Linked DNA regions of Homo sapiens. The protein of the gene in region 1 interacts with the protein of each later gene in a biochemical or structural test. Each region holds a gene or a part of one and is shown in the gene's direction. Other genes may lie near its edges.

Region 1 (3,753 bases):
TGGTCTTTGTTTTTGAGATGGAGTCTTGCTCTGTCGCCCAGGCTGGAGTGCAATGGCACGATCTCGGCTCACTGCAACCTCCGCCTCCTGGGTTCAAGCAATCCTCCTGCCTTAGCCTCCCAAGTAGCTGGGAGTACAGGCATGTGCCACAACGCCCAGCTAATTTTTGTATTTTTAGTAGAGATGGGGTTCTGTCATGTTGGCCAGACTGGTCTTGAACTCCTGACCTCAGGTGATCTACCCGCCTCGGCCTCCCAAAGTGCTAGGTGTGAGCCAACATGCCCGTCCTTTTTTTTTTTTTTTTTTTTTTTGAGTCAGAGTCTCACTCTGTCGCCCAGGCTGGAGTGCAATGGCGCTATCTCGGCTCACTGCAACCTCTGCCTCTCGGCCTCAAGCGATTCTCCTGCCTCAGTCTCCTGAGTAGCTGGGACTACAGGCCCGCGCCACAACGCCTGGCTAATTTTTGTATTTTTAGTAGCGACAAGTTTCATCATGTTGGCCAAGGTCGTCTTGAACTCCTGACTCAAGTGATCCACCCGCCTCAGCCTCTCAAAGTGCTGGCATTTCAGGTATAAGCCACTGCACCCAGCAGGAAAGCTGTCTTCAGTAAAAGTATTATATAATGACACCTTGCATTCTGAGAGCAGCTGCTGTTTTCAAGGCTCTTAAAGAGCCTGGACTCTGGAGACAAAGGGGCCTCCAGAGGGGTCCACGCCTAGCTCCATCACTGTGTGACCCTGGGCAGCTCACTTCGCCTCTCTGAGCTTTTGTTTCCGCATCTGTAAAATGGGGGCATGGATGATGAGGTGGTCCCCACCCTCTAGGGTGGCTGGAAAATTATGTGTGGGAGCCATGAGCACATAGTGTCCGGCACGTGCCAGTGCTCAGTCAATGAGATTTGTCATTTCTTCAGTCAACAAATATTTATTTTTGAGCTGCTGCTGTGTGCATCATGAGCTGGGAGCTGGGGAGACAGTCAGTGGTGAGGGAAACTAAAGTGATCCCTGCCCTCTGAGCTGACGCTCCACAGATGCTGAAGAAAATGAGTCAGTGCACTGTGGGCAGTGTTCGGGACTGCCTCACGCTGTGCAGAGAAACAAAGAAGGGAGATCGGAGCGCAGGAGGTGCGTGGCTGTGTTATTTGTTTGTTTTGAGACAGGGTCTTGCTCTGTCACCCAGGCTGGAGTGCAGTGGTGTGATCGTGGCTCACCACAGCCTCAACCTCCCGGGCCCAAGTGATCCTCCTGTCCCAGCCTCCTGAATAGCTGAGACTATAGGCATGCACCACCACGCACAGCTATTTTTTTTTCTTTTGCGTAGAGACAGGCATCTCCCTATGTCACCCAGGCTGGTCGCAAACTCCTAGGCTCAAGCAATCTTCCCGCCTCGGCCTCCCGCCGTGCTGGGATTTCAGGCATGAGCCACAGTGCCAGCCTTCATGGTTATTTTAAAGATGGTGGTCGGGGAGGCTTCACTCAGGAGATGACATATGAGCAAAGATGCAGTGAAGGAGGTGAAGGAAGGAGCCGTGCGATGACTGACAGAAAGACATTCCAGGTAGAGGGCACACAGGTGCAAAGACCCTGAGGCCAGATCCAGGCTGATAAAACAGAGCATTTTAGCAGTCTCCTCTCCCTGCCATTTTTTTTCTCAAAATTGACAAGCACAAGTGTCCCCGGCCCAAGCACCGCAGAGAGCGCGCAGCATCTCTCCCCGTGACCATGACCCAGCTACTGCCTCTTTAACCTTGAATGCCTTTTTGGGGGCTCACGTGTCACCCAGTGGCGAGTGAGCCACCCTTACTTCAGAAGAACGGCATGGGGTGGGGGGGCCTTAGGTGGTGCCCGCCTCACCTATGACTGCCAAAAGCGGTCATGGGGTTATTTTTAAACATGGGGAGGAAGTATTTATTGTTCCTGGGCTGCAGAGAGCTGGGCGGAGTGTGGAATTCTTCTCGGGAGGCAGTGCTGGGTCCTTTCCACCATGGTGAGTACAAGGGCTCCAGGAGGTGATGATGCCGGGTGGGCGAGGAGAGGAAGCCACTACAAGCGAGGGACCACGGCGGAGGGGGAGGAAGGCGGCCCTCAAAGCCTCCAGCCCCTTGTGGAAAAAGCCCCATTGACTGCGCGGGCACAGAGGAACCCCAATCAATGCCCCGATAGGCCACAAATAACAGCAGCTCTCGGGGACTCACAAACACAAAATAAGAGAGTTGGCTTTTTTATGGCTTGTCTACTGACCTCTCGAGGAATCAATAACTCCCAGGACTTGCAAAATGGGATTGAATGCTTTTAAGGATCAAATTGTAATTCTTTTCTCTTGTTCAGGCAGCTGGGAAAAAGAATGTTTTTGTTTTCACCTTTTGAACTTGCAAATTTAAAACCTTTCTTTCTGTGCTGTTGGGTTAGGTGTCCCCCTCCTGAAGTGGGCAGTCCCCAAATCAGGGTCAGCACAGGAGGGAGAGTGGTTAGAGGCAGGAACTCTGGAGTCAGAATGCCCAAGTTCAACTCCCCAAGTTCAACGCCCAAGTTCAACTCCGGCTCTGCCTTCTGTGTGTGTGGCTGTGTGATCTTGGGCAAGTGACCCAACCTCTCTGAGCCTCAGTTGCCTCTCCTGTAAAATGGGGATGATAATAATAGTATCCACTTGACAGAGTGGTTATGAGAATTAAATAATACATATGTAGAGTACCGAATCATTTGCTGTTATTGAAAGTCAGAGAGAAGTGGGGTGGGGAAGAAAGGTCAACTCGCTCTTCTCTGCCCTATTGATGTGGTGCAAGGACGGAGCATTCAGAGAGGAGGTTTTGCTGCCATTTGGAGCAAGGGAAAATTGTGGGGTGTGGGGCGCAGTTGGGTTTTAACACCTTGAAGAACTGTCATTTCATCTTGGCATTCATCATGGCTTAGTGAGCCTGACTTTTTCTTTCCCTCCAATCAATTCTCCTTCTGTGCATTACTGAGCTTTTTGTGAAATGCATCAGAACAAAAGTGGCTGGATCCTGCAGGGGCGATCTGAAGGTGTGGCCTCCATCCCCAGGGACACACCTGTGGCTTCTCCTAGTTGGTGAAGGAGCCACTGCAAGATGCACAAACGCTTATGATCCACTGGTACCAGAGGGCTCTGGAGAAACTTCATGTCATGTCCTTTGCTCCCTCCAGCATCACCGTTTGGAGACCTGAGTGTGGATGCTGTACCCACATTTCACAGATGGGCAGCTGAGCCCTGCAACAGAGATGAACACACCCAGAGTAGGGGCCTGACCTAGTTTTTTGACTCCCAGCCTCTCACTCTTTTAATCGATGCTTTTTTCCCCCAGGCACCTAAGAAAGCAAAGAAGAGAGCCGGGGGCGCCAACTCCAACGTGTTCTCCATGTTCGAACAGACCCAAATCCAGGAATTTAAGGAGGTGGGTGCAGCTATTGAATCATCCGCCTGGATGGAAATCCCACCCACGAGGGAGAACCTTCTTTTTGTTCCATATTCCCAGCAGGGACCTTTCATTAGATGCCTCTATCCTCCAAACAATCCCAAATTCGGCCTGAACGGATGTGTGAATTTTTAAAAGAAACTATTTTTAATATTTTCACTGATTATCAAAGTAAAACATATTCCATGTTGAAAAATGTTGGAAAATTTTTCAGAAAAGCACAGAAAAGGAAATAAAAACTACCTACAATTCTATTACCCAGAGATAATCAGTTCACATTTTAGTATATACCCTTCAAACCATTTTTGTTATCTATGTATATA
Region 2 (3,753 bases), on another chromosome or scaffold:
AAAAGTTCTTATAAATCATTGAGAAAAAAGATTGCCTCATCCCCATACAAAATTAATGAGGCGCATGCAGGCATTATTATGGAAATAGCTGTTAAATGTAAAAAAAAGTGATCAGCCTGATTACAGTAGTCCCCCTTTATCTCAAGGGATATGTAGTCCAAGACCCCCAGTGGATGCCTGGAATCACGAATAGTACTGGACCGTACACATACAATTTTTTAAAATCTGATAATGAAGACCATTAGTAAGTGACTAACAAGCATGGATATGCTGGACAAAGGGATGACTCACATCCCAGGCAGGACAGAGTGGGATGGCACAAGATGTCATCACGCTGTTTACAACGTTGGGCAGTTTAAAACTTCTAAGTTGTTTTGAGCTTTTCTATTTAATGTTTTCAGACTGTGGTTCACCACTGGTAACTTGAAACCATGGAAAGTGAAGACAAGGATATGGGGGGACTACTGTATTAAGAAATTAGCATTAAATTAAAACTATAACATAAAACCATTTTTCACCTGCCAAACTGGCACGGGTTAAGAAACGAAATGGGTACTTTTGTGGACTGCTGGTAGAACTCCAAATTAAATGCACTCTTTCCAAAGCATCTTTGACAATAAGTTTCGCAGGCCTGAACTATATCCCTGTTAATGGTGGAGACAGTCAAGCAACAGGCAATTACAGTACTATGTAAAATGCTGTTTATAATATAGGGATGAACAGAGCGCTTGGGGAAACGAGGGAAGCATGGAGAATTCTGCCTGAGGACATTAAGAAAGATCTCAAACAATGGAGGATGGATAATTTTACAAGCAGACAAATAAGGGAAAATCAGTTCCAAGCAAAATGTCATGTGCAGAGGTACAAAGTCATCAGAATTACTTATGTATTTGTAATTTTGTGTTGGCTTGGCGTTGGGAGAAGGCAAGGGTAGGGAGTGGTAAAAGATGATGTGACACTAGAGAGAAAGTCTGAACCCAACTGAAAAGCTCCATGTACACTGTGCTCAGGAGTTTTGATTTATAAGTAGAAGTCTTTCAGTAAGGGATTGGTATTCAGGCTTAATGAGATCCTGAACTGAGTACTTGACAATGAAAACGAAGAAAATAAACCTGGATTTGGAAAGATTTCTTCAGTTGAAATAACTAGAATTAGATGACTGATTCGAAGGGATGAGGGAGAGGGTTGTAAGGGAAGTCTCGTCATACACTACAGTCGCATCTAGCGATTAGACTTAAATTTGAGATTGTGACACTGGCACACACTTCAAAGGTTTTGAAAGGGTATGCAATGCAGCTTTCTCCTAACCTATGCTAAAGCTGAGGCTTGGATGCCCTGGAAGGCCTGCTGATCACAATCTCCCAAGCAGTAGAGCTGAAACTATGGCTATAAGTTACATTATATATAAGTCTAGAGAAGTGAGTGTGTGCCAGGTTGCGATATGTGTTCAGTGAGTAATTATATCTGTTTGTGTGTTTTCTCAAATGTTGTGCTGTGTTTAGCACATTTTAAAAGAGTAATTTGAGTCGCTGTGTTTATTTTAAATTAGAGTAATCATCCATTAACCTATTCTGTCAGTGTTTCTCAAAGTTAACCAGCTGTATCAGAAATCGCCTCAGGTTTTTTATTTGAAAATGCAAATATTTGGGCCCTTTTCAGTCATATCTAAATCTCTTGGAATGAGGCCTTATAAAGAGCAGTAGGTAAATCATATACACTAAAGTTTCTTACTTTAGAAGTGTGTAAATAAGAACCACTGACAATAGTGATTACAGGTGAGACTTTGGGGACCAGATGAGTTCCTTGGCACAAGTTGATTCATGAACACCACAGTTTTAAAAATGAAAAAGTTACTGCTTTTTTTTATTATTTATTTATTTTTATTTTTATTTATTTATTAATTTTTTGAGACGAAGTCTCACTCTTGTTCCCCAGGCTGGAGTGCAATGGCACGATCTCGGCTCACTACAACTTCCGCCTCCTGGATTCAAGTGACTCTCCTGCCTCAGCCTCCTGAGTAGCTGTGATTACAGGCACCTGCCACCATGCCCAGCTAATTTTTGTATTTTTAGTAGAGACATGGTTTCACCATGTTGGCCAGGCTGGTCTTGAACTCCTCACCTCAGGTGATCTGCCCGCCTCAGCCTCCCAAAGTGCTGGGATTACAGACGTGAGCCACCGCATCTGGCCAGGTGGCTATTTTTAAAAACAAAGATGATAGCAATATTACAGTTTAGGTTATTGAATTAGAAAGAAAAGACCACATATATCCCAACTCTAAGTCCAATTTAGCCAAGATGACTTGCTAATGCTACTTATGTACCTGTGGCTTTTCCCTTGTCCCTAGTTTTTCATATGCAGGACAAAGCTCTTGGTGACACATTGAGCAGGCAGGGTCCTACTGGAATTCAGAAAGCTGCTTTCTTATTCTATTACTCCCTTTTTACCCCATGGTTTTTGGTGCTATGATGGAAAAACTGAGCTGACAATCTGACCACTTTGGTGAAGGGGAACATTGACAAATGTGCTTTCATAATTCTCAAATCAAACTGGGCATCAGGATGGTTATGTGTTTATCTGGGGTATGGGAGTGAGGAGGGAGAAGCAGATTGTTTCTTATTATCCCAAATATGATCGCTGTCTTCAAATATCTGGAAAGTGTACTTGGCCAACATGATTATATGCATTTATATATAAAGGGCAAGGCTTCCCTATGTGCGTCCGTCTTAATTTTAATCTTGTTGTTATCCATGAAGGGAAAATTAAAATGCTTACAAGCACATTCAAAGTATGATTTCTAAGTCATAACATTAAGTTACAGTTTCTAAAGAGTGTTAGAGTATAAATTTACAAACCTCCTATTGCAGATTGCTTGATTTGGCATTTAAAGACTGGGATTGGTCATTTGATGATGTTGATGGTGGTGGTGATGATGATGACGATGTTTTTGATTTCTGAAGAAATAAATGGGGTAAATCAAAAAATGAAAAATCAGTTATTTTAGTACTTCAACGTAGTGCATGTGGTTTGCCACTTGGGCTTTCATTATTTTTTATTTTTGAAACTTGTTTTTAATAGTATATAGTTAAAAGTAGTTTTCGAAAAGTTGCTAACTGAAATTTACATGTTAAGTGTAAAAGTGAAATGCTATGTTCAGATTCTTTATTGGCTATAAATTTTTAGTACAGTTAGAATTTATCTTAGGAATGAGATGTAGAAATCACAAAAGGAGTTAATTCTGATACGTTCTGTTCATTCCAAAGAAGCCATATTCAGAAGAGAAGTAAAATTTACAACGTTTTCAAGTTCCTACAGCTATATTAGTTTGTGAACATAGCATGAGATTCCTTTCTCCATCTCTCTCCTTTTATTTCCAACTTGCAAGAATTGAAAGCATAAAAACTTTATAAGTCTAATAAGTGCTGTGAAATAGCTATTTCTGATTTGGCATTTTTGTGTGTGGTGCTGTGAAATGTTTGCTTTGTGAGAATTTAATGTTACCCTTGCTGAAGAATGTCAGTGATACGCTGTGAGAATTGTGCTTTTAGAAAATGTAAAATAGTTTGGTTAATAGTGGCTAAAGGAGATTTGAATGAAAGTTGAGCCTCAAGTTAAACCTTTTACATAGAAGGATTTAAAAGAAATAATGTGTGTTTTAGTCTAAGTAAGCAAGTTGCAAAACATAAATCAGGTAGTACTGGTATCTATTTATAATCAGATTTCATAGAGTAGCTTGTATATATTTACTACAAC

What was found. The genes of interacting proteins can lie anywhere in the genome.
Region 2: of the proteins of MYL2 (region 1) and ROCK2, one has a biochemical effect on the other in vitro, tested with the Homo sapiens proteins (one study listed by BioGRID).

What each region holds. Positions count from the first base shown.
Region 1 is NC_000012.12:110,918,760-110,922,512, reverse strand, and holds the start of MYL2 (myosin regulatory light chain 2, ventricular/cardiac muscle isoform), read left to right. Parts: upstream 1-1,933; 5' UTR 1,934-1,983; coding exon 1,984-1,986; intron 1,987-3,319; coding exon 3,320-3,409; intron 3,410-3,753. UniProt on the Homo sapiens protein: Contractile protein that plays a role in heart development and function.
Region 2 is NC_000002.12:11,183,884-11,187,636, reverse strand, and holds part of ROCK2 (rho-associated protein kinase 2), read left to right. Parts: intron 1-713; coding exon of another isoform or gene 714-765; exon of another isoform or gene 766-1,852; intron 1,853-2,867; coding exon of another isoform or gene 2,868-2,958; exon of another isoform or gene 2,959-2,971; intron 2,972-3,753. UniProt on the Homo sapiens protein: Protein kinase which is a key regulator of actin cytoskeleton and cell polarity.